Homo sapiens: one gene and its partners. The protein of the gene in region 1 purifies or fractionates together with the protein of each later gene. This does not show direct contact. Each region holds a gene or a part of one and is shown in the gene's direction. Other genes may lie near its edges.

Region 1 (3,500 bases):
TGGATTTCCCCGCAGCACCACGTGCAGCCCCCAGCTCCTTGGTCTCAGCCCAAGCCCCCCTCTACCTCCTTCTGCAGGAGTGAGGCAGCCCCTGCCCACTGTGCTTAGGCACCTCACGGTGCTCCCACAGCCTGAAGCCTCCACCTTGCTCTGGTCCCTGCCTATCTGCTGGCTCCTGGGCTGGCCCATCAGAGTGCCCTCAAGGGAAAGCAGGGGCCAGGTCTCCCTCCTGGTGCTTTTCCTCCCTGTGATCAGAAGTGACCCAGCTCCTGCGGGGGTAATGAGAGTCAGGGAGGCGCTCAGTTATCCCAGGGCTGGGCCGAGGCCTGGCCACCCGTGTAAAACAGGGCAAGGCTGAGCTCTATCAGTGCTGTCTGGGAGAAGGGCCCCAGGGGGCATCACAACAGGGTGACCTTATTGAATCCTAACTGGATGCGGTAGAAGTGAGTCCAGCATGGGGGCTGGGTGGGCAGAGGCCTCGCACACACCCTCCTCTCCCTCATGCACCTGGCTTCAGGTGGACTGTCCAGGCAACAGCAGACATATGTGTTACACCATGGTGTGGGCCCTACAGCGCCCCATGGAGGAGAGGGGGTTGGATGGATTGTTGCCGGCTCATTTTCCAAGGCCAGTCTCTGCTGCTTTGCTTTCAGAAGAGCTCCCTTTCACTGTCCAGCCTGAGGTGGGGCTGCGGGGAGGAGGCTCACGCTTTTCTCTGTGTTTGGCAGGTGAAGGGCTGGATGCACAGTGGGAGCCGGAGGCGGGGGGCTGCAGGGAGCACACCAGCGACCGGCCCTCCAACCCTCCAGCCACTCAGCAACATCGCCACAGCAACCAGCAACCAGACGGCAGCAGCCGAGGCAAACACAAGCGGACGGCTTCCCACCGTCGCCGAGGACAGGGAATGACTACGGCAAATCAGGCCACTTTGCCAACTAGGGAGGTGGAGTGTCACTAGTGGGGAGGGGCGGCCACCGCCCGCTGCACAGAGCGCCATGCCGGCTGGAGAAGAGGCGCTGGGGCAGGGGCTGCAGTGTGGCTCGGCCTCACCCCCCTGCTGGCACTGAGTGCCTCCAGGGCAGCTGGGCTCTTGTCTGCCTGGTCTCAGTGTCCCCTGTGGCAAGAGGGAGAGGTGCCCCATCCCGTGCTCCTTGTCTGGGCCCGCTGCTGCCAGACCATGGGATGTCGGCAAAGCTCAGAGGAAAAAGAAGCAGCCCGGCGGTCCCGGAGAATTGACCGCCACCTGCGCTCAGAGAGCCAGCGGCAACGCCGCGAAATCAAGCTGCTCCTGCTGGGCACCAGCAACTCAGGCAAGAGCACCATCGTCAAACAGATGAAGATCATCCACAGCGGCGGCTTCAACCTGGAGGCCTGCAAGGAGTACAAGCCCCTCATCATCTACAATGCCATCGACTCGCTGACCCGCATCATCCGGGCCCTGGCCGCCCTCAGGATCGACTTCCACAACCCCGACCGCGCCTACGACGCTGTGCAGCTCTTTGCGCTGACGGGCCCCGCTGAGAGCAAGGGCGAGATCACACCCGAGCTGCTGGGTGTCATGCGACGGCTCTGGGCCGACCCAGGGGCACAGGCCTGCTTCAGCCGCTCCAGCGAGTACCACCTGGAGGACAACGCGGCCTACTACCTGAACGACCTGGAGCGCATCGCCGCAGCTGACTATATCCCCACTGTCGAGGACATCCTGCGCTCCCGGGACATGACCACGGGCATTGTGGAGAACAAGTTCACCTTCAAGGAGCTCACCTTCAAGATGGTGGACGTGGGGGGGCAGAGGTCAGAGCGCAAAAAGTGGATCCACTGCTTCGAGGGCGTCACAGCCATCATCTTCTGTGTGGAGCTCAGCGGCTACGACCTGAAACTCTACGAGGATAACCAGACAGTAAGTGGGGCCGGGGGTTTTCCTCTGCTTGTTCCTGCTGTCGTGGGTTCCTGGAAGCAAGAGGACTCGTGAGGTCCAGGACAGTCTGCAGCCAGAAAGGGAACCAGGCGCAGGCCTGGCCCTGCTGCACGATAACTGAGGCAGCTCCAGCAAGGTGGGGGCAGAGGGAACAGGGTGTGGAGTGCAGGTGTCATGTCCCATGCCTGAAGTACTCAGGGTGTGGAGGCCACAGGGCAAGAGAGTGTGAGGCTCCGCCGGGCATCCATGATCAATCCATGTGATAGTTTGGCAAATCCATGAAGCTCCTGCCAGCACCAGTCTCCTACCAGCATATAGGTCCAGGAACAGCAGCCACCCCTGCAACCCCATCTTGAGTCTGCAAATCTGGCAGAGATGGGGTTAAGAGCTGTTTAGAAGGGATAATCCCAGGTCCTGGTGGAAAGGGGACGACGTAAAAGCAGGTGTTGGGATTCTTTCACAGTGGCATGGGCGCAGCCCGAGGGAGACCTGGACCCAGTGTGAAGCGGTGGGGGCTTGAGAGTGGAGTTGCTGGAGAGGGTGGGGAGCCGGGTGAAGCAGCAGGGCAGTGTGCTGAGGCCCAGCCAGGACAGAAGGTCTAGCACACGAAGGGGGCCACAGCCAGGAGTGGCAGCGGTGGAGGCCGTGGCAGGCAAGGGAGGGGCTGTCTTGCCCAGCAGGATTCCCTGAGCACAGATTTCAAGTCTGCCCTTAAGAGAGAGGCCTTTGACCCTGGGGATGGGGGAGTGGGGGCAAACAAGGAGTCACGAAGTTGTGGGTACCCTGGGGCTAGGGGAGGGTGATGCTGGGAGACAAGGGCTCAGCCTCTCCACTTGGGAGCACTGGCCTCCGAGGTCACTCCTTGCTTCACCCAGTCCTAAGGCAAGCTTTATTCTTTAGGTTCAGCGGAGAGCAACAATGGTTCTAGCTTTGGACCTGTGCCCCAGCCAGGGAACCTGGACAGCTCTAGGCAGTGGCCATGGTGCTAGGAGCCTGAGTGTTCTGAGAGAGAGGATCTTTGGCTTTCCTCAGGCAGCTGGGGAGGCGGGCTTGCCTCCCTCCCCTCCTCGCATCAGGGGTCTCCCTGGAACTGTGCCTAGGTGTTGATGGTGTGCCTGGGGGAAACGAATGACGGACGGGCAGGCAGGTGTGTACGCAGGCGGCTGCGTCCACCCTGTTCCCAGTGTGTATCTGTGTGCTCTCCAGGGTTCTGGCCCCTTACCCTGTGGTTGCCACAAGTTCAGCCCCATGTGTGGTTCTGGGCAGAGGGGACATCTCAGCAGATGAGTGAGGTCAGGCTCCCTTGATGAGGCATGGCCGTGGGCAGAGCGCTTGGGGCTGAGAAGCTGCAAGGCAAAGTGAGGTGCTCAGGCCAGACCCTTGGGACAGTGCCATGGTGGGTCTGCCAGTCACACGGGCTTGCGCCACTGGCCTCACCCATCACCACAGTGGCAGGCGTGGCAAATTCCCCGGGCACCAGGCCTGGCTCCCAGTTGCATCCTTTGACAGGCCGTGCCCACAGGTGTGCTGGACACAGGAGGCAGGATACCTGGGTCCTGAGTCAGTCCAGTTTTTCATGGAG
Region 2 (3,500 bases), on another chromosome or scaffold:
GGCAGAAGGATTGCTTGAGCCAGGAGTTCAAGACCAACCTGGGCAACACAGCAAGACCCTGTCTCAAAAAAAAAAATTAATTAAAATTTTAAAACTACAATATTGACACATTTAAAATTTCTTAAATGTCTTAGGTCCTATTTCTTAGGGAGAAATTTGTTTTTTATCTCATTGGTGTTTTGGCAAAGTAAAAATTTTACTGTGACCTTCAGTCAATTTTAGGCCATAAAATAACCTATAACTTTCCTTGCAGTATTTCAAAATAACAATGTGTTGATATTTATTACTGTTTTCCCCTCTGCCTTCACATCTGTTTTATAATTGCACAATGGATAGGATGATACCATTGAAGGCTTGTTTTTGGACTAATTCTTTGCATGTATCATCCTTCATTTTCCCAGTACACGAAGGAGAGTGATTTCAGCATTAGAAGTTGGGATTTGTATAGTTCAAGGATTTTAGTATTTTTAAGGCTTTTTCATCATAGTTTTTAATTCTAGTCACCACACATCTCTAGCCCTAGCATTCTGTAACCAAGGAAACGCCCTACTTTTAGCATGGCACAGTACAAGTGTACCTTTTAAAGAAATATTCCAGGTTGAATACTCTGTGTATTCTGAGATAATATTCAAAAGAAGATCAGTGATCCTAGTGATTCAAAAAAGCCAAATTTTAACACATTAAAATTGCCTGAAAGTCTTAAGTATTTATTTTTAAAAGTCTTTATTTTTCCTAAATGATAAGCTGAAGCTGCCATTGCCATATATGGATGCATATACAGCTTAGGGAAACCAATGACTAAAATAAAATCCAACTGAAAAAATAAAGTTTAAATTTAAAAATTTCTGGCCAGGTACAGTGGCTCATGCCTGTAATCCTAGCACTTTGGGAGGCCAAGGCAGGAAGATTGCTTGAGGCCATGAGTTCAAGACCAGCCTAGGCAACATAGTGAGACCCTGTCTCTACAAAAAAAGTTTAAAAATTAGCCAGGCATGGTGGCATGCACTTTTAGTCCCAGCTACTCAGGAGGCTGAGATAGGAGGATTGCTTGAGCCCAGGAGTTCAAGGATGCAGTGAGCTATGATCATACCACTGCGCTCCAGCCTGGGCAACGGAGCGAGACACTGTCTCTTAAACAAAAAATCTGTGTTGCAAATGTATTTTTCAGGTGAGTTGACTAGCATTTATCTTAAGGAGTATCAACTACACTCAAAGCATTTAGATAGGCCAGTTTAGGTTAAGATACAAAGATGAGTAAGGTGTATCTATTGGGGGAACCAGCCCCCAATATTTCAATGTATGTTCTATTTTCCCTAAATGTCGGCCCATCTGAGAAATAGAGAAAGAGTACAAAAAGAGGAATTCTACAGCTGGGCCTCCAGGGGTGACATCACATATCGGTAGGTCCGTGATGTCCCCTGAGCCACAAAACCAGGAAGTTTTTATTAGGGATTTCAAAAGGGGAGGGAGTGTACAGGGAGTAGGTCACAAAGATCACGTGCTTTACAGGGCAATAAAGATCACAAGGCAAGGGCAAAGCAAAGATCACAAGGCAAAGGGCAAAATTAGAATTACTGATGAGGGTCTATGTTTGGCTGTGCACGTATTATCTTGATAAACACCTTAAACAACAGAAAACAGCGTTCGAGAGCAGAGAACCGGTCTGACCTCAAACTTACCAGGGCGGGATCTTTTCCGCACCCTAATAAGCCTGAGGGTACTGCAGGAGACCAGGGCGTATTTCAGTCCTTATCTCAACCGCATAAGACAGATACTCCCAGAGCGGCCATTTATAGACCTCCCCCCAGGAATGCAATTCCTTCCCCAGGGTATTACTATTTTTTTTTTTATTATACTTTAAGTTTTAGGGTACATGTACACATTGTGCAGGTTAGTTACATATGTATACATGTGCCATGCTGGTGCGCTGCACCCACTAACTCGTCATCTAGCATTAGGTATATCTCCCAATGCTATCCCTCCCCGCTCCCCCCACCCCACCACAGTCCCCAGAGTGTGATATTCCCCTTCCAGTGTCCATGTGATCTCATCGTTCAATTCCCACCTATGAGTGAGAATATGCAGTGTTTGGTTTTTGTTCTTGCGATAGTTTACTGAGAATGATGATTTCCAATTTCATCCATGTCACTACAAAGGACATGAACTCATCATTTTTTATGGCTGCATAGTATTCCATGGTGTATATGTGCCACATTTTCTTAATCCAGTCTATCATTGTTGGACATTTGGGTTGGTTCCAAGTCTTTGCTATTGTGAATAATGCCGCAATAAACATACATGTGCATGTGTCTTTATAGCAGCATGATTTATAGTCATTTGGGTATATACCCAGTAATGGGATGGCTGGGTCAAATGGAATTTCTAGTTCTAGATCCCTGAGGAATCGCCACACTGACTTCCACAATGGTGGAACTAGTTTACAGTCCCACCAACAGTGTAAAAGTGTTCCTATTTCTCCACATCCTCTCCAGCACCTGTTGTTTCCTGACTTTTTAATGATTGCCATTCTAACTGGTGTGAGATGGTATCTCATGTGGTTTTGATTTGCATTTCTCTGATGGCCAGTGATGATGAGCATTTTTTCATGTGTTTTTTGGCTGCATAAATGTCTTCTTTTGAGAAGTGTGTGTTCATGTCCTTCGCCCACTTTTTGATGGGGTTGTTTTTTTCTTGTAAATTTGTTTGAGTTCATTGTAGATTCTGGATATTAGCCCTTTGTCAGATGAGTAGGTTGCGAAAATTTTCTCCCATTTTGTAGGTTGCCTGTTCACTCTGATGGTAGTTTCTTTTGCTGTGCAGAAGCTCTTTAGTTTAATTAGATCCCATTTGTCAATTTTGTCTTTTGTTGCCATTGCTTTTGGTGTTTTGGACATGAAGTCCTTGCCCATGCCTATGTCCTGAATGGTAATGCCTAGGTTTTCTTCTAGGGTTTTTATGGTTTTAGGTCTAACATTTAAATCTTTAATCCATCTTGAATTGATTTTTGTCTAAGGTGTAAGGAAGGGATCCAGTTTCAGCTTTCTACATATGGCTAGCCAGTTTTCCCAGCACCATTTATTAAGTAGGGAATCCTTTCCCCATTGCTTGTTTTTCTCAGGTTTGTCAAAGATCAGATAGTTGTAGATATGCGGCATTATTTCTGAGGGCTCTGTTCTGTTCCAATGATCTATATCTCTGTTTTGGTACCAGTACCATGCTGTTTTGGTTACTGTAGCCTTGTAGTATAGTTTGAAGTCAGGTAGTGTGATGCCTCCAGCTTTGTTCTTTTGGCTTAGGATTGACTTGGCGATGCGGGCTCTTTCTTGGTTCCATATGAACTTTAAAGTAGTTTTTTCCAATTCTGTGAAGAAAGTCATTGGTAGCTTTATGGGGATGGCATTGAATCTGTAAATTACCTTGGGTAGTATGGCCATTTTCACGATATTGATTCTTCCTACCCATGAGCATGGAATGTTCTTCCATTTGTTTGTATCCTCTTT
Region 3 (3,500 bases), on another chromosome or scaffold:
CACTTTGCCGACGCACGCATTGTGGGCACTGGTGAGGGGCCCCTACAGAGGGTACAGGGGGAGGGGGATGGGATGGCACCTCTGGTCGGCTTTCTTCTATGAAAAATGTGGCCAGGTGGGCATGAAGTATGGGTCCAGGGCTCATGCCAAGCCCCTGCTGAGGCACGGTGTGTCCCCGCAGACATCCGAGACTCACTGATGCAGGCCCTGGCCAGCTACGTGTGCTACCCACACTCCCTGCGGGCTGTGGAGCGAATCCCCGAGGAGCAGTGAGTGGGGCCTGGGGGGCACACACCCTGGCCACAAGCACCATGCCCAGCCTCACCCCGTCTCTCCCCTCCTTGCCCTCACAGGCGTATCGCCATGGTGAGGAACCTCCTGGCGCCCTATGAGCAGCGGCCCTGGGCCCAGACCAACTGGATCCTGGTGCGGCTCTGGAGGGTAAGCCTGACTCGAGGGGAAGTGGCTGAGGCTGGCTGGAGGGAGAGGGTGCGCTGTCCCATTGACCTGGGCACTGACCCCCACCTCCACAGGGCTGTGGCTTCGGGTACCGCTATACACGGCTGCCACATCTGCTGAAAACCAAACTTGAGGACGCCAATTTGCCCAGCCTCCAGAGTGAGTATCTGGGTTGGGCGAGTCCTGGGCAAGGCAGGCGGGGGCGCTTACCTCCTACCCATGGGTTCTTTCAGACTCTCCACTTCTTCCAGCCCCTCTCTGGTTCCCCCATTGGGTCCCAGACTCCCTACGTGTCCCCTGGGGTTTCCACTTTCCCTGCTTCCTTCCAGCCCAAGGATACTCGGGATGGGACTCCCCCTCCCCAGCCTTGCCCACAGTCTTACCTACATGTGCCCTTTGGGCCTGGATGCTCTATGTGGGTCATGGTGAGAGGCGGCACCATGTTCCTGGCCTGCTACAGCTCATGCAGACTGAATACTCTGTCCCTTGCCCTTTAAGCTAGCTCCCTGACCTCCAGCCTTGTCCCAGCACCATGTCCTTCTGCTTCTTTTTTGCTATCTGCTGGTGGCAGACCCTGGCCTTGGCTTAGGCCTTGGACACCTGAGTCCACTGGGAGCACAGATTGGAGGTTGGCCAGGTCCCCAGAGGGTATTCACGAGAGTTCCTGGAGGAAGGGACATTTAGTTGGGAGCAGAGGCTGTGCCCTCTCTCCAGGGTCCAGCAAGGACTTTCCCCTAGGCCTGGCCCTTGCAGAGTGCCAGGTGTGCCACACACTGTCCTCACCCTTCATGGTGGCTCTTCTTGGCTCATGTAGTCTGTTTCTGCCCTTGTGGGCAGTGTTTTGGTCCAAAGGGTGTCCCCAGAGAGGCTGAGTGTCTTCTGCTAAGTCACACAGCAAGTCCTTGCCAATTGCCGTGGTCCTGCGTCCAGGGCGGAACTGAGCTGCAAGTGGAGAGCGGCAGTGGGGCCAGGCCTGTCCTGCTGCTGCGGGAACTATTGATTTGTATCAAGCTGGTGGGGAGGTGCGCCAGGCCCGTTGCAGCTGAGGGCTCCGGTTACTGCTGCCTGCCAGCCCAGACTTGGTGCCCACCACCTCGGCCATATGCCAAGGCCAGGCCAAGGGCAGCAGAGGACAGTAGAGGACAGCAGGTTTGCAGCAGGGCTTAGAGTAGGCTCTTGGAGGAGCTGGCCTTGGTGCCGGTGGGGAAGCATCTAAGCCGCCCTGTTTAGGTCTGACCCTATCTGAAGGGTGTGCGACCCAGAACTTGCTGAGGGTCAGGCTGTGGCTGTGTGGCTGCTCTGGACCTGGAGTGGATGGTGTGGTGTCAGGGCTGGACACAGCTGCAGCCTGGGGCTTGCCTAGTAGAAGGAGGGGACAGATTCTGTCCCAACTAACTCCAAGGCAGCTGTCCTCTGTCCCCTGCTTTCATGACCTGAGCATTCCTAGGGAGCCATCTTTCTGTCCTTATACCAAAGCCTCAATGGGCGAGGACAGAGGCAAACAGGCAGAGGCCACTGCAGTGGAGTCCCTGATGATGCCGCCTCCTGTCCCCCTGCAGAGCCCTGCCCTTCCACCCTGCTGCAGCAGCACATGGCGGACCTCCTACAGCAGGGTCCTGATGTGGCACCCAGCTTCCTCAACAGCGTCCTCAATCAGCTCAACTGGGCCTTCTCTGAATTCATTGGCATGATCCAAGAGGTGGGCTGTGGTGGGGCCTCGTGGGTTAGGGTGGTGCAAGGGATGAGGCCTGGTCCTGGGCTAGAGCCAGGTGCTGACCACTGCATGCCCACGTGTTGGTGGCTCAGATCCAGCAGGCTGCTGAGCGCCTGGAGCGGAACTTTGTGGACAGCCGGCAGCTCAAGGTATGTGCCACCTGCTTTGACCTCTCGGTCAGCCTGCTGCGTGTCTTGGAGATGACTATCACACTGGTGCCTGAGATATTCCTTGACTGGACCCGGCCTACCTCTGAGATGCTGCTGCGGCGTCTTGCACAGGTGTGGCCATCTGGGCAACAAGGGTGGGACCCTGGGGATGCCCCATTGATGACGCTCCCCATCCACCAATGGACTCCTGCTCCCCTCACAGCTGCTAAACCAGGTGCTGAACCGGGTGACAGCTGAGAGGAACCTGTTTGATCGTGTGGTCACCCTACGGCTGCCTGGTGAGGACCTAGATGCCCTGCACCCCAACACACTACAGGCCTCGGTTCCTCTGCTAGGAACAGTGAGGCCTGATTCCACATTCTGCCCCCGGACAGCCAGACTTGGTGCTCTGCAGTCTCGGCTCACCCTTCTGTAGAGAGGGCAGTGGGCAGGCCTGGAGCCCTTGAAGCAGGAGCATGTGGGTGGCTCATCTCTTTCCTCCCCTTCCCCTCAGGCCTAGAGAGCGTGGACCACTATCCCATTCTGGTGGCAGTGACGGGCATCCTGGTGCAGCTCCTGGTGCGTGGCCCAGCCTCAGAGTGAGTGTTGGGGACCGTGGGCCCCTGTGGGAGTTGGGTGTGTCTGGTGAGGAGGGGCTGGACAGGGCCTCCTGGTACTTCAGTTTCCTCATCTGGAAAATGGACCTCAGCATCAGGTTTTGAGGCAGAGGGAAGGTGGTGAGGTGTGAACGGCCTAAATAGGGGGCAGACGGAGCTGCTCTAAGTAGGAGAATCTGGGACCCCAGCAGGACAGGTGGCCCTGGCCCACAGAGCCACTGGCTTGTGGCCATGCCTCAGGCCAGGCATGGGAGGCAGGACTCCGGAGGGTGTGCCGTCCTGTGGTGGACAGGGCCAGGCCGCCAGGAGAGCTGAACACACGGAGGACCGCCATTGTCTGCAAAGGCTCTAGCAATAAGCATGTGCTACCTTTATTAAACTCTGGAGCAGCGAGGTCCAGGATGGCCATGGGGGCCCCCAGCTCGGCCCCCACACATGAAGGGCTCCCAGACCCCCCTTCCCTGCCCCCCTGCAGTGGGAGCAGTGAGATGCATATGAAGCCAGGGTACCGCCTCAGCCATTAGGCTGAGACCAGTGCCAGCCCTTAAGAGGCTCCTGCTC
Region 4 (3,500 bases), on another chromosome or scaffold:
GAGGAGCCTGTACTGAGAAAGCAACCTATAATTGCTGAAGGTAAGAATAGACGGAAAACTCCAGAAAGCAAGCAGGAGAACTCAAAGTGGCAGGCTGTTTCTGTGCAAATATCCAGACACCTCCACATACTTCTGGTGGCCTAATGCTGTAAGCTATTAATAGTTCATCATGTAGCCCCTGAGGCATAATGAAAAGGTTAGCATTGGGCAGCATATTCCATGTGAATTCTGATTCACATTTGGCTATTGAAGGAGACTTGCGGAGGGCCTCCTGGAAGTGGTGAATTTGAGCCAGTCGGAAGGACGCATGGGCATTGATTTGCGCTGGGAAAGGGAGTGGAATGTATGGTGAAAAGGCAGTTTTTGTGACTGTAGCCATATGAGGATATCGACCCCACCCTGGACCTCAGAATCTTGTCAGAGCTCCCTAGGGCACTTGAAAGTGCAGCCAGGGTTGCGAACCTGTACTGACCTCTGTGCTCTAGGTATTCTCAGTAATGACAACACTAACTACCATTTCGCTTTTGGTTCTGTGTTTTTGTTCTTTTTTTTTTTTTTTTTTAATACCGAGTCTTACTCTGTCTCCCAGGATGGAGTGCAGTGGCTTGATCTTGGTTCACTGCAACCTCCGCCTCCCAGGTTCAAGCGATTCTCATGCCTCAGCCTCCTGAGTAGCTGGAATTACAGGCGCCCACCACCACACACAGTTAATTTTTGTATTTTTAGTAGAGACAGGGTTTCACCATGTTGACTAGGCTAGTCTCGAACTCCTGACCTCAAGTGATCCACCCTCCTTGGCCTCCCAAAGTACTGTGATTACAGGCGTGAGCCACTGCACCTGGCCTTTTCAGGTTTTTTTCTTTGAAACGAAGTCTCACTCTGTTGCCCAGGCTGGAGTGCAGTGGCTCGATCTCGGCTCACTGCCACCTCTGCCTCCTGAGTTAAAGCGATTCTCCTGCCTCAGCCTCCCTACCAGCTGGGATTACAGGCCTACACCACCACGCCCGGCTAATTTTTTGTATTTTTAGTAGAGACGGGGTTTTACCATGTTGACTAGGCTGGTCCCGAACTCCTGGCCTCAACTGATCCGCCCGCGTCGGCCTCCCAGAGTGCTGGGATTACAGGCGTGAGCCACCACGCCTGGCCCTAACTACCATTTAGGACTGCCCGTTTGAGCCTGATGTCACACTTGGTGTGTATTGTCTCATTTTATCTCCAATGAGTGTTATTATTCCCATTTTGCTGATGAGAAAAGCAAGGTTCAGAGAGATTAAGTGTTTTTTTTAGCATTAAGTCATGCAGGGAGCAAAAGTGCTGGAAGCCAGATTCCCTCTTGTCCATCTGCCTTCAAAGACCATGCTCCCCCCATGACCATCATGGCCTGTGTTGCTCTGCCAGGCTCCTGGGCAGCCTCTTGCTGTTTCTCAAAGCTCGGTGAGGCCCCTGGAGCAGAGGGATTGGAAAGGCTTTGTGAATGCAGGTCATCCCACTTCCCAGGACTGCGGGAGCCAAGGTAGGATGAGGAATGGGAGAGTTCTGACTCCATGCGGTAGCACTGCAGGCTCTGAGAGATCCAGCCCGCCTGCCCAACAGCTCAGAACGGAGCTGGACCTTATGAGTAGGCGTGCCCCTTAGACTCATTCAGTGGGAGGCTTAGCCAGCACAGAAAGGAAGAAACACAGGGGACAGAGGCTGATTGTTTTTTTTTTCTTTTTTAATGACAAAGAATTTTATTTATTTATTTATTTTATTTTATTTTTGCGACAGGATGTCCCTCTGTTGCCCTGGTTGGAGCACAGTGGCATGAACCCGGCTCAGTGCAGCCTTGGCCTCCCGGGCTCAAGTGATCCTCCCACCTCAACCTCCCAAGTAGCTGAGACTACAGGTGTGTGCCACCATGCCCAGCTAATTTTTGTATTTTTTTTGTAGAGATGAACTTTCGCTATGTTGCCCAGGCTATTCTTGAACTCCTGAGCTCAGGCAATTCTCCAGCCTTGGACTCCCAAAGTGTTGGGATTACAGGCAAGAGCCACCAGGCCCAGCCTCAGAAAAATTTTTTAAAATAGTTTTTATCCAACTGTAAGCATCACACATGCTCAGCAAAAGAAACTTGGGAAACAAAAATATAAAGAAGAAATCATTTCTTTATTGCATAATTGCACACTTGGAGATAACCACCAAATAGTATTTTATCTGTAGACTTTCCATCTTTTTTTCTATAAATACACATATGCACATGCCCCTAACAGATGTGGCCTAATAAGTGTAATAATAATGTATATGTTTATGCACACCAAACAGATGTGCAGTCCAAACTGCTGAATGTAAAGCAAGTACTGTTATACTCTGTTGTTAAAAATCTATTATTGGAAGGCTGGGCTCAGTCGCTCACGCCTGTAAACCCAGCACTTTGGGAGGCCAAGGCGTGTGGATCACCTGAGGTCAGGAGTTCCAGAGCAGCCTGGCCAAGATAGCGAAACCCCATCTCTGCTAAAAATACAAAAATTAGCCAGGCGTGGTGGTGGGCGCCTATAATCCCAGTTACTCGGGAGGCTGAGGCAGGAGAACTGCTTAAGCCTGGGAGGCTGAGGCTGCACTGAGCCGAGATAGTGCCACTGCACTCCAGCCTGAGCGACAGAGTGAGACTCCACCTCAAAAAAAAAAATTTTTTTTAATTGCATAGAGAGAAAGATCCACGAACTTTCTTCCTAAGGCATAATTGGGTGAAAACAAGGTATTTGGAATCAGAGCCGATTTCACAGTGAGTCTCCATGTGAAGGGCCCCTGTGTTCCGTTTTGCTTTGAAAACTCTGTCTCTCCGGGGCCTTGCTGTAACTGTCAAAATGCGTGCTCAGCATTAGCCCCGGTTTTTTTCTTGCAAAGGCTCCCTCGAGAGCTCTGTTTTCCTAAGTGAAGGAGATTGAAGCTGAGGGGAACATGTTTGGAGCCACAAGATTTCACGGAACTTTCAAAAGCCTCTCCCGCGGCTTTGGCTTTGCTGAGCACTGCTGGGCTTCATGGTGGAGCCGCAGAGCAGCCGCTTTCCTGTGTTCAGCACCGCCGCCCCCGAACTTAGCCCCTCATCACCACGTGCGGCTCCGCTGCTCTCTGAGCTTCTAGTAGGGCAGCTCTGACTTTGTAGGGCACCGCTGGAACCTAGAAGAACGGGAAAATCTTCCCTGAGCCCCAGGCTAGATGAGCCAACTCCCATGCACCCTGTTTAAAGGAGAGCTTCAAGAGTTTTCAGTCAGGTCCTGTTTATTCTTGGTTTGCACACAGTTCTAACAGGTTTTTCCATTCATAGCAGATTTGAAGTTGTGGTAGAGACTATGGAGTGATGAGCAGCAAGAGGTGATCACTGACAGCTAGGGAGGACACAGAAATGACACTGAGTACAAGCACAGCACCGAGGCCTGAGCCTGGGCGTGGGGACCTCCATTGCCACACGCCGCACCATGGGCATCCCTGTGCTGTGGGACAGTGACATGATAAGTGAGCCT
Region 5 (3,500 bases), on another chromosome or scaffold:
TGCCAGTAGTCCTGATACCTTAGGTGTCTGCGAAAGGGCGTCTGGCAGGGCTGGGGTTGGTGACAGGCACCTGTCTCTCCCACAGGCCTACTTAGAGTTTTTCACTTCCCGCGAGACAGCGGAAGCACTTCTGCAAGTGCTGAAGAAGTACGAGCTCCGGGTTAATTACCACCTTGTCAATGTGAAGGTAGGCCAGGCCCCAGGGTTCCCACAGAGTACCAGGCCCTTCGTTGAGCAAACACCCAGCACCTAGCCTGGGCTAGGCATTGTGCAAGACAGAGAGATACAGGCAGAACTGGGGCCCTGCTCTTAAGGAGCTCCCAGCCTAGAGTGAGGGAGGCAGATCAATGTGTGACCACCAGCCAGTGTAAGTGGGAAAATCAAGTTCAGGAGAGGATGCTGTCGGGTCCAGAGGAGGGATATCTCACCTGGGAGGCCAGGGAAGGCTTCTCAGAGGGTCATCTGTGGGAATCACTGAGGACAAAGAGGAGTTGGCCAACAGGAGAGAAGGGTATTCCTGGGACAGGGCAGAGGACAGGCAGAGGCAGTGAGCTGCACCATCTGGGGAAACGGGGAACATGAGCAGGAGGAGGCGGGAGTGTTAAGCAGGGGCCAGGCCCGCAGAGATCATGGTTGTCCTGCTGGAATTTGAGTTTTCCCTCAATGCAAGGGAAGCCTTTCTCCAGCAGTGGGGTGGCTTGGTTCCTGCTTTATTTTAGGCAAATCACAGTGGATAGTCATACGGATGAGAGAGATTGGGGACGGCTAGAGCCGGGGAGGCCAGTGAAGAGACCCCTGGAGTGACCCAAGCCAAACACACTCCTGGAGGTGGGCTAGACAAGAGGGAATGGATCAGAGAGTGAGCAGGGGGTGCTCAAGGAGGAGAGGGGAAGTGGCCAGGACGCCTCTAGGTTCAGGCTTGTGTGGGGAGAGATATCATTCACAGATGCAGGCAGAGGAGGCCAGGAGCGGAGGCACAGGGAGAGGGGAGTGGAGGCGCAGGGAGAGTGGAGGCCGGGAGTGGAGGCGCAGGCAGAGGGTATTGAGCCCAGACAGCCTCATTGAGTCAAGGCTGTCCAGGCAGTGGGACTCCAGTTGTTCTTGGCCCAGGTCTTACCCCCACCCCACATCCCCTCAGGGTGAAAACATCACCAATGCCCCTGAACTGCAGCCGAATGCTGTCACTTGGGGCATCTTCCCTGGGCGAGAGATCATCCAGCCCACCGTAGTGGATCCCGTCAGCTTCATGTTCTGGAAGGTAAAGGAGCCGGGGGCAAGCTTGCCCCGCCCACCTGGAAAACCGTGGGGAGGGATTGGGACCAAGTCCCAAGCGTGTGCTGAAGGCCACACTGGACCCAGCCTTCAGGGCACACCCAGCTCTGACTCACCCATGTCACTGCTGATGCAGGGTGTTTATTTCTGGGCAGGGGTGGGAAGTGATACTGGCAGTGGGCCTTGTTCTATTCCGGGAAATGTCCTGTTGAGCAGAGCCCTTGGAGAGCCCTGTTAATCTTGCCTCTGTGTGTGTGTGCATGTGTGCGTGTGTGCGGGGGTATGTGTGTGTAGGACGAGGCCTTTGCCCTGTGGATTGAGCGGTGGGGAAAGCTGTATGAGGAGGAGTCCCCGTCCCGCACCATCATCCAGTACATCCACGACAACTACTTCCTGGTCAACCTGGTGGACAATGACTTCCCACTGGACAACTGCCTCTGGCAGGTGGTGGAAGACACATTGGAGCTTCTCAACAGGCCCACCCAGAATGCGAGAGAAACGGAGGCTCCATGACCCTGCGTCCTGACGCCCTGCGTTGGAGCCACTCCTGTCCCGCCTTCCTCCTCCACAGTGCTGCTTCTCTTGGGAACTCCACTCTCCTTCGTGTCTCTCCCACCCCGGCCTCCACTCCCCCACCTGACAATGGCAGCTAGACTGGAGTGAGGCTTCCAGGCTCTTCCTGGACCTGAGTCGGCCCCACATGGGAACCTAGTACTCTCTGCTCTAGCCAGGAGTCTGTGCTCTTTTGGTGGGGAGCACTTGCGTCCTGCAGAGGACCACAGTGGGTGGCACCTCCTGAGAAGGCGAGGAGAGTGGTTGTTGCCAACTAAGCCCTCGAACCAAGGCAGCCTCCAGAGCCAGCCTGGGACTCCCAGTGAACTTACACTTGGAGCCCGTGCAGTACAGGCAAAACACGCAAGGGCATCAGGCACTGGTGGCATCGTAGAAGAGATGTGGCAAAGTGCTGTACCCTTCCACCTCCTAGAGGTGGGCAGCTGGGCCCCACCTACTTGTGACTGAAGGGGCACACCACTGCCCTGCCTGCCCACTTAGCCGTCCATGGCACCAGCCCCCTGGATGGGCATTGGGCTGACACCTACCATGCTGCTTTTTGGCACAGTTGTCTATTCTGAGCCTTGAGAGAAAAAGTGCCCCTTAAGGGTTGAAGGCAGTCTGAACCCTTGTGCTTGGTGGGGCTCGTGGCCTTCCCCTTTTGCCTGGCTGTGGAGGCCTGATGCTGCCCCGTTCCCTGTCAGAGGCTAAGATGAGATTTGCCAGCACAGGGGCCCCAGATCTGCCTGGGCCTGTGCAGCAGCCCAGCTTCCTGGTGTATTTTTCAGGTAGGCCCTTGTCCTGCCAGCTGCCTTCCTCATCCCCTCGTCCTGTCCCAGAGGTTATCTGCCTGGCCTGGCTCCCCACGAGTCACCTGCAAGCCCCAGGGCCTGGGGGCAGTGACTGGCAGGTGCAGATGGGCTGTTTCGTGTAGTGGAAGAGCAGCCTGATGGCCAAGGGGGTGGACGCAATTGTGGGATGTCCTCTTTACTCCCTTCCTGGCCTCACTGGCTGGGGCAGAGGGGCAGCCGCTAGGAGAGACTGAAAGCAGCAGCTAGGACTGAGGAGTGGGTTTTATTGTCCTTCAGAGCTCTTCAAGCTGTCCCCTCTGTCATCACTCCCTGGATGTGTGGGGCATGGTTCCTTCCCTGGGAAGGCTAAGTTCAGTTCTGTTTTTTATTCTATGAGAACAAGTCACAGCTGCAGCTGGGCCCCATGCTCTGCCCCAAGCCCCCAACCCCGCGGTGCTCTGGCGGCTTCCTGTCCACTCTCGGGGCCCTTGGGGCCTGGCTTGCTCCAGGGTCTTGGGCTACTGGCAGCTCCTCTCCTTGGGCTCCTGGCTGCCAGGCGTTGGTGCCACTTCTTAAAGGCCTGGAACCAGGGAGGAGAGGAAATGCTATTGTTGTGGGCTTTCTCCGGGGTCTGTGCTGTGCCTGCTAGAGCAACCCCTGTACCCAGCTCCTTTTGTCCCCAGGGCCCCTCCCTCTGCCCCAAGCAGCCAGCCAGTCTTGCCTAGGCCAAATGCACAAGCTCAGAATAGATCTGATGGTGAGCTGGGAAGCTGTACTCAGAGCAGAGCAAATGAGGGAGGGGGCGCTCAGGACCCAGGCCCTCCATGGGCTAGTGTGAGTGGCAGCCATGCCTCATGCCACACCTTCTTCGCAAACTGATGGACC
Region 6 (3,500 bases), on another chromosome or scaffold:
TGCTGTACTCACCTAGGTATTTGTGGACTGTAGTTAACTAAAGGTAACTGAAACTCGAGAAGCACAACCTCAGATAAGAGGGACTACTGTATTTAATATGTTTACATTTCTGTTTATGTTTACATTTCCCCAATTTTTGTCCCAAGAATTTTTTGTTTTTTCAAATCAGGATTCAGAGATTCAGAAGTTCATGTATCACCTGTGATTTTTATGTCTCTCTGTAAGCTTGCCATTTTGAACACTCGAATATATTACTGAAGTTAGCTTTGCAAACATTTCGTGCCTGATAAATACATCTGATGGATGTTTATAAACCAGTTTGAAAATTTACTTATTTCAAGGAAATAAACTTCCAAAGCAAATAGTAAATAATAATAGTTAACACTTACTGAGCTCTTAGGAATCAAAATGTTGACATTATTTGATTTAAGTTATTCTTAAAAACCGTTCTATGAGACAGTCTTTCTCAACCAGCGTTTCTCATTTGAACCACAGAACACAAAATCATTTAAATGACTGTTTTTCTAATGTTCTAAGGATGGTAGTATTCAAGATACATATGAGAAAATTTAATCTTTACAAACAATGGACAGATAACCTTAGAGGGCATTTGAGCTTATAAGTGGGGAAGTTAAATTGCTTAATTATATAATAAGTATTTGCAGTTAATTTGAATAGGTATTATTACTTATTATAGAAATATACCCTCGATGAGCATTTTATTTACTGGTAGCAATATTTTTTCCTCTCCCATTCCCACTTCCAACTTTATCCAGCCAAATTCTGAATTTGTTGAAATGCAAGTGATTTATACATTCTAAAGCCAATTCATTTTAATGATACAAATTATTCTTAAAAATCCAGTTGCTGCCTGTTTTTGCAAGTATTACTGTAACTACACTGTATCTTTTTCTTCCCAGAAACTTACAGCCTATTTAGATCTTAACCTGGATAAGTGCTATGTGATCCCTCTGAACACTTCCATTGTTATGCCACCCAGAAACCTACTGGAGTTACTTATTAACATCAAGGTATAAGAATGTTGACTGTTTTTGATGAATGATGCCTTCATAGTGTTCTGGAATTCCCTGTTGAGAAATTAGCCCTATAGGAGCCCATTTTATCAGACTGTAGTTAAGAATTTTACAAAGAGGAACTAATACTCATGGTTTTTGTTTTTAATGTTTTATATCTTGAAATTGAAATAAATTTCTCAAATAATGTTTTAAGTTTTCCTAAAGAGCCAGGGAGTAAATATTAGCCAACTACTTAATTCTGGTGCCATAGACAATACGTAAAACAGATGAACATGACTATATTCCAAAAAAAATTCTACTTATAAAAACAAGCCGGGGGCGGTGGCTCATGCCTGTAATCCCAGGACTTTGGGAGACCTAGGTGGGAGGATTGCTTGAGGCCAGGAATTTGAGACCAGCCTGGACAACATAGTGAGAACATAAACAAACAGATGGTGGGTAGTAGTTTGGCAACCTGTTCCATACCATAATGTGTAAGAATTTTGTCTTGTTTCTCTAGTCTACTCAGTGTATGTTCTGAGATAGTCATGTCATGTATTCTTTTCTGAATGTAGGCTGGAACCTATTTGCCTCAGTCCTATCTGATTCATGAGCACATGGTTATTACTGATCGCATTGAAAACATTGATCACCTGGGTTTCTTTATTTATCGACTGTGTCATGACAAGGAAACTTACAAACTGCAACGCAGAGAAACTATTAAAGGTAATACTTTTTAAATATTAAAGTGTTGGGCAGAAAAGTTCATTGCATTAAACTAGATTTAGGTGAAGCCTAGTCATTGTTACCAATATACCTGCCATGAGTGAGGTAATATTGTGTCGTTATATAATATTTCCAGGTTTCTATAGAATTATCTTAATTCCATTTAGTAAGTCCACTCTTTTCAGGTGGAGAGAAAAGGTCAATGTGAAATGTCATTGCCTTGAGATGATGGTACCTCATTTTCCATCTAGTTAGTCACCCTGTCCAACTTCCCATCCTACCACTTTGGTTGAGCCATACTGAAAGGGTTTTTATTATCCAGAGGGTGTCTTGGGACCAGCTCTTCAGCTGTGTTTTCAGGGATCTGGATTCTAAGCAGGCTGTTTGCCTTTTGGATCATATTGGGAATAATCACTGTCAGGGTAGTTGGAAAGGAATTTGGGTGAAGAACTAAGAGCATTGATACAACTAATGTTGTAGCTTTGCCAAATCATTTAACTTTTATTTTCTCACCTGAAATATAAGAATTACAGTATCTCCCCATTTCCTTTTAAGAGCATTGTGAAAATAAAAAGAAAGTACATGTGGCAGCTGTGGAAAGTAAGAAGTGCCATTCAGATACACTGTGGTGTGATTTCTTTGGAATTGTGTCACCCAGTAAAAGTGCTTTCCTGGCTTTTTGCTAGCATTTTAAATAATACTGTTCTCTCATCTCCGGCGGTTGAGTCATCTGAAACCAGCTTGATTTCTTTTTTTTTTTTTTTTCCAACTTTTATTTTAGATTCAGGGGTACATGTGCAGGTTTGTTACAAAGGGTATATTATCTGATGTGAGGTTTGGGGTACAGATGATCCCATCACTCAGGTAGTGAGCAAAGTACCCAATAGGTAGTTTTTCTTTTCTTTTCTTTTTTTTATTATACTTTAAGTTCTGAGTTACATGTGTACAATATGCAGGTTTGTTACATAGGTATACAGGTGCCATGGTGGTTTGCTGCACCCATCAACCTGTCACCAAATTAGGTATTTCTCCTAATGTTATCCCTCCCCTAGGCCCCCACCTCCCGACAGGCCCCAGTGTGTGATGTTCCCCTCTCTGTGTCCATGTGTTCTTATTGTTCACCTCCCACTTATGAGTGAGAAGATGCAGTGTTTGGTTTTCTGATCTTGTGATAGTTTGCTGAGAATGATGGTTTCCAGCTTCATCCACGTCCCTGCAAAGGACATGAACTCATCCTTTTTTATGGCTGCATAAAATTCCATGGTGCATATGTGCCACATTTTCTTAATCCAGTCTATCTTTGATGGACATTTGGGTTGGTTCCAAGTTTGCTATTGTGAGTAGTGCCACAGTAAACGTACATGTGCATGTGTCTTTATAGCAGCATGATTTATAATCCTTTGTGTATATGCCCAGTAATGGGATTGCTGGGTCAAATGGTATTTCTGGTTCTAGATCCTTGAGGAATTGCCACACTCTCTTCCACAATGGTTGAACTAATTTACACTCCCACCAACAGTGTAAAAGCGTTCCCCAATAGGTAGTTTTTCAACCCTTACCTCCTCCCTCCCTCCCTCCCTTCCTTATAGTCCTCAGTATGTATCATTCCCATCTTTATGTCAGTGAGTTCCCAGTGTTTAGCTCCTATTTATAAGTGAGAGCATTGTAAGGTAGGTATTTGGTTTTCTGTTTCTGTGTTAATTCATTTATGATAATGGCCTCCAGCTGTATCCATACTGCTGCAAAGGACATGATTTC
Region 7 (3,500 bases), on another chromosome or scaffold:
CACTGCTGTCCTGATTGGGACGATGGAGGCCTGGAGGTGTCTGGATGGTAGAAGTCTTTGAGGCACAGAAAGCTGCCTTAGCAGGGAGGTGTAAGGGTTCCTGGGAGGAAGGTGGAGAGCATGATCCTGAGGAACAGGGAGTCTTGCATCACGGCAATGGAGGGACTCTGATTCTAAGGGATAAGGATGCCTGAGGTTTTTCCAGAGAGCTATGGGGTTCCATGGGCAGGCTCTGAGCCTGTGCCCGCCACTAACCCCACTGAAGCCCGTCCCTTCAGGCTGATGCTGGTGGAGGAGGAGCTGCGCCGGGACCACCCCGCCATGGCTGAGCCGCTGCCAGAACCCAAGAAGAGGCTGCTCGACGCTCAGGTGGAAATTACAATGTCATTTATCTTCTCCGTGTCCCATCCCCATCCATCCCACTGTCTTTCGTGCACTCACTACACCAGCCACCTAGCCCCATCACCATCTGTCTCTCATAGTCTGCTGTTTGTCCACTGGCTGCTCCTGGCAGCCCCCTAGTGACCCCATCTTCATCCCATCGTCTGTGCCTTTGTCACTCCTGGCAGCGTCAGCCCAACTCCTGTGCCTTCCCATCCAGTCTTCCCACTCCTCTCTGCATCTCAGGACCTTCTCTACCAGAACCTTGGTCTTTCTGCCCCTAGACCCCACCTAGTTCCAAGAACCCCTGCCCCTTCTTTGCTCACTCCTATTCAAGCCACGTTGTTCAGCTTCCTCTGCGCTCTTGGGCCAGAGGGCTAGAAGCTGCCGTTTTCTGGAATAGAGCACAGGGCAGTATGATCTGTAGTTTCTCCAGGCCCTGGCCGGTACCCTGAAAACTTGGGGACCCATCACCTCTGTTCTCTTGGCTCCCTAATTTTCCTGTCTCCTTGGCAGCTCCTGCATAGCTTCCTCTTCCTGACTCTTCAGATCTTGAAGGCCTTCCATCCTGTAACCTCCCTTTGCCCTCAGTATTTAAGTCCAGCCTCCCTCTGGCCTCCCTCCCACTCTGGCCCTCAGACCTTCCCAGCTGCCTGCTGCCCAGCCTCTCTTCTCACAAGCCAGCTTCTAGGACCTCCCTTCTGCACCCTTACCCCTTGCTTTCCCAAAATTCTGCTCATTTTCCTACCCATACTCCTCTTTGCTCTGACTGCTAGGCTCCCCCCGCCTGCCATCCCCCCACCAAGGCTCCTGACCCCATGACCCCACTCTCTCCCACTGCAGCTCCTCATCAGGTAATTCTCCTGGTTCCGCTTTGGCCACGGGCGGAGGACACAGGGGGAGGTGACTCCGGACCACTGCAGGTTGGTCGTGAAGCCCACTCCCTCCAACACCTCCGGAGCCTCTCCCCTCTCACTGCTGCCCTCCACACCCAGAGAACCTCCACAGACTCCAGCCCTCCGACACCTGCACAGATCCATCTCCCAAGACACCACCCAAAGAGAGCATTTGCTGCTGCTTCCCAGAACTGTCCAACAATACCTTAGCAACACCAAGAGTTGGGCCCTAGATGGGCCCAGCACATTCACAGGTCACACCCACTTCCCTGCAAAACCCACCCCCTCCCAGCCTCCTCCTGACTCTAAGCCCTCCTCTTCCTCTACCTCTCCAGTGTATGTCTGTCACCCCCCATTTCACCAGAGCGTCCTTAGGGGCTGGGGGTGGGTTTGTTAATGGGGTGGAGGCAATGATGGGTTGGAGGATCTTGGCTATAGGGGCTGTGCTGACTGCAGCAGGTAGGTTGGGTTTCCCTCTTCCTTCCCTAATCTTGGTTCTCTACCCTCCTTTCCACTCCTCACCTGATTCTCTCTCTTCCTCCTCCTTATATCTGTGAGGCAGAAGGCATCTGAAGCTCATATTAGCCCCCATTGGGTGGGAATTAGGAGTGGGTAGTTAACTCAGGGAGACTTGAGATACCCTGGAAAAAATGCTATTGAGATGTCCTGACATTAGGCAGGGTGGATGGAACAAGAAGGAGCAAGAAAGGAACCTCAGGCAGATGTTAGGACATGGACTTGATCATGTGGCCTGGGAGTTTAGAAATGGGGAGAGACATCCTCCTAGATCAGATCGTGGGCTCAGTAGGCATGTTGATTCCCAGGGAGAGGTGCCAGGAACAGCATGGTAAAGAATGTACTCTTCACAGCTCACATCCCCAGGTTGCTGATGCCACTCACTCCCCCTCTCCTGCCATCGAGTGGCCTTGCCGGACACATCACCCTACCTAAAAAGCCAGTAAATGAGAACCTGTCAGCTATAGCCATCATTTCTGAGATGCGATTTTCTTTGGGATTGAGCTGCAGTGGGCAGTGGCTCCTTACACTGTAATTTTAATTCTCTGCCTGCCCAGCCTCTCTGTCAAAGTAGCTGGTGATCTATAAAGATGCTAAAAGGCACCAGGGGACTTTGCCATTTAAAGGACTCCTGCAGTGAATTCTTTTGTAAAATGAATAATGGCACCCTAATTTATCCACTTTCTAAATTTGGGTCCATGGGGGTGTCCAGGGCATGCTTATGTGCTGTCACCAGCAGACAAACAGAGGGAATGGAATCTGGGGGTTCCTTCCCTGCTCTCCCGCCATACTCAGGATACCCTACCATAAGTGATTTCCTCTCACTGACTTGCAGAAAATGTGTGAGATACCCAGCAAGCTAAGAAGGCAGTTTTGCTGGGTATCTCATACCCAAGGCTGGGGTTTGGGTGATCTGAGAGGTTAGCTCCTTGATCCTAGGATGGAAGGGAGAGCTTATATAGAAGCTTTTACTTGGAAGGTTTTGTATCCTAAGGTCAGACATAGCTATATTACCAAGCCTAAATGCCATGTGGCCCAGGAAATAATTTGGACATTTGTTCTAAACCACTTGTGGTAGGTATTGGTCTCTCTGCAACTCAGCCATTAATTAGAAATTAGTTTTGAGCCTGAATTTTAAAAAGCCAAGTGTTGCCCCCAGCCCACACACACACACACGGACATGTACAGTACAAACCCCAGATAATTACAACAGCCAAAGAGAGAAGGAAGTGAATTTCCCAACCAGAAGCGTAGGGAAATTCAGATGGCTTTCTTTTCTCCCAGCAGAGGAACAGAAGGCGGAGCTAAGGGCAGGAACCAGGAGTTGGTCAAGGAGCTATAGGAGGTGATGAGAGTAGAACCAGGGGTAGGAGCTGGTCTGGTACCCCTCACCCTCTAATTGGGAGCCCAGGGAGAAGGACTGAAAAGAAGATGGGAGTGGAAAAGAATAAAGCCAGTTTCTGCTTCCCAGGGATGCAGAGATTGGGGCATGCTGTGTCTGCAGAAGCTCCTAGTCATTTCCGCCATAATTGTGAGAGAGAGGGGCAGCCCTCCCACAAGATTTTTCCCTTCCCATATCACTTCCCTGAATCCCCTTCCTTTCCCCCCAGTACAGTTAAACCTCTCTCTAATTTGGAATGTTATATTTGAGAAGATGGCCACTGTGAATAAGTGACAAACGGAATGACAGTGTCTATTTAATGAAAT

What was found.
Region 2: the proteins of GNAZ (region 1) and RAP1GDS1 purify together in Homo sapiens (affinity purification with mass spectrometry, with the first as the bait; one large-scale study listed by BioGRID). This does not show direct contact.
Region 3: the proteins of GNAZ (region 1) and RNF123 purify together in Homo sapiens (affinity purification with mass spectrometry; 2 studies listed by BioGRID and IntAct, with this or other methods). This does not show direct contact.
Region 4: the proteins of GNAZ (region 1) and RGS10 purify together in Homo sapiens (affinity purification with western blotting, with the first as the bait; one study listed by BioGRID). This does not show direct contact.
Region 5: the proteins of GNAZ (region 1) and MTHFR purify together in Homo sapiens (affinity purification with mass spectrometry; 3 studies listed by BioGRID and IntAct, with this or other methods). This does not show direct contact.
Region 6: the proteins of GNAZ (region 1) and ITM2B purify together in Homo sapiens (co-immunoprecipitation; one large-scale study listed by IntAct). This does not show direct contact.
Region 7: the proteins of GNAZ (region 1) and SYNGAP1 purify together in Homo sapiens (co-immunoprecipitation; one large-scale study listed by IntAct). This does not show direct contact.

Annotation. Positions count from the first base shown.
Region 1 is NC_000022.11:23,094,519-23,098,018, forward strand, and holds part of GNAZ (guanine nucleotide-binding protein G(z) subunit alpha), read left to right. Parts: intron 1-728; 5' UTR 729-1,177; coding exon 1,178-1,900; intron 1,901-3,500. UniProt on the Homo sapiens protein: Guanine nucleotide-binding proteins (G proteins) are involved as modulators or transducers in various transmembrane signaling systems.
Region 2 is NC_000004.12:98,411,384-98,414,883, forward strand, and holds part of RAP1GDS1 (rap1 GTPase-GDP dissociation stimulator 1), read left to right. Parts: intron 1-3,500. UniProt on the Homo sapiens protein: Acts as a GEF (guanine nucleotide exchange factor) for the Rho family of small GTP-binding proteins (G proteins) that stimulates the dissociation of GDP to enable subsequent binding of GTP.
Region 3 is NC_000003.12:49,713,557-49,717,056, forward strand, and holds part of RNF123 (E3 ubiquitin-protein ligase RNF123), read left to right. Parts: coding exon 1-31; intron 32-181; coding exon 182-269; intron 270-353; coding exon 354-441; intron 442-533; coding exon 534-618; intron 619-2,018; coding exon 2,019-2,158; intron 2,159-2,265; coding exon 2,266-2,454; intron 2,455-2,545; coding exon 2,546-2,621; intron 2,622-2,836; coding exon 2,837-2,921; intron 2,922-3,272; exon of another isoform or gene 3,273-3,500. UniProt on the Homo sapiens protein: Catalytic subunit of the KPC complex that acts as E3 ubiquitin-protein ligase. Promotes the ubiquitination and proteasome-mediated degradation of CDKN1B which is the cyclin-dependent kinase inhibitor at the G0-G1 transition of the cell cycle.
Region 4 is NC_000010.11:119,511,720-119,515,219, reverse strand, and holds part of RGS10 (regulator of G-protein signaling 10), read left to right. Parts: intron 1-3,500. UniProt on the Homo sapiens protein: Regulates G protein-coupled receptor signaling cascades, including signaling downstream of the muscarinic acetylcholine receptor CHRM2.
Region 5 is NC_000001.11:11,788,965-11,792,464, reverse strand, and holds part of MTHFR (methylenetetrahydrofolate reductase (NADPH)), read left to right. Parts: intron 1-85; coding exon 86-187; intron 188-1,138; coding exon 1,139-1,258; intron 1,259-1,566; coding exon 1,567-1,785; coding exon of another isoform or gene 1,786-1,925; 3' UTR 1,926-3,005; coding exon of another isoform or gene 3,006-3,195; 3' UTR 3,196-3,421; coding exon of another isoform or gene 3,422-3,500. Other genes in the region: uncharacterized protein C1orf167, read right to left, coding at 3,422-3,500. UniProt on the Homo sapiens protein: Catalyzes the conversion of 5,10-methylenetetrahydrofolate to 5-methyltetrahydrofolate, a cosubstrate for homocysteine remethylation to methionine. Represents a key regulatory connection between the folate and methionine cycles.
Region 6 is NC_000013.11:48,257,206-48,260,705, forward strand, and holds part of ITM2B (integral membrane protein 2B), read left to right. Parts: intron 1-920; coding exon 921-1,031; intron 1,032-1,591; coding exon 1,592-1,742; intron 1,743-3,500. UniProt on the Homo sapiens protein: Plays a regulatory role in the processing of the amyloid-beta A4 precursor protein (APP) and acts as an inhibitor of the amyloid-beta peptide aggregation and fibrils deposition. Plays a role in the induction of neurite outgrowth.
Region 7 is NC_000006.12:33,447,565-33,451,064, forward strand, and holds part of SYNGAP1 (ras/Rap GTPase-activating protein SynGAP), read left to right. Parts: intron 1-265; coding exon of another isoform or gene 266-278; coding exon 279-369; coding exon of another isoform or gene 370-372; intron 373-1,224; coding exon of another isoform or gene 1,225-1,239; exon of another isoform or gene 1,240-3,500. UniProt on the Homo sapiens protein: Major constituent of the PSD essential for postsynaptic signaling. Inhibitory regulator of the Ras-cAMP pathway.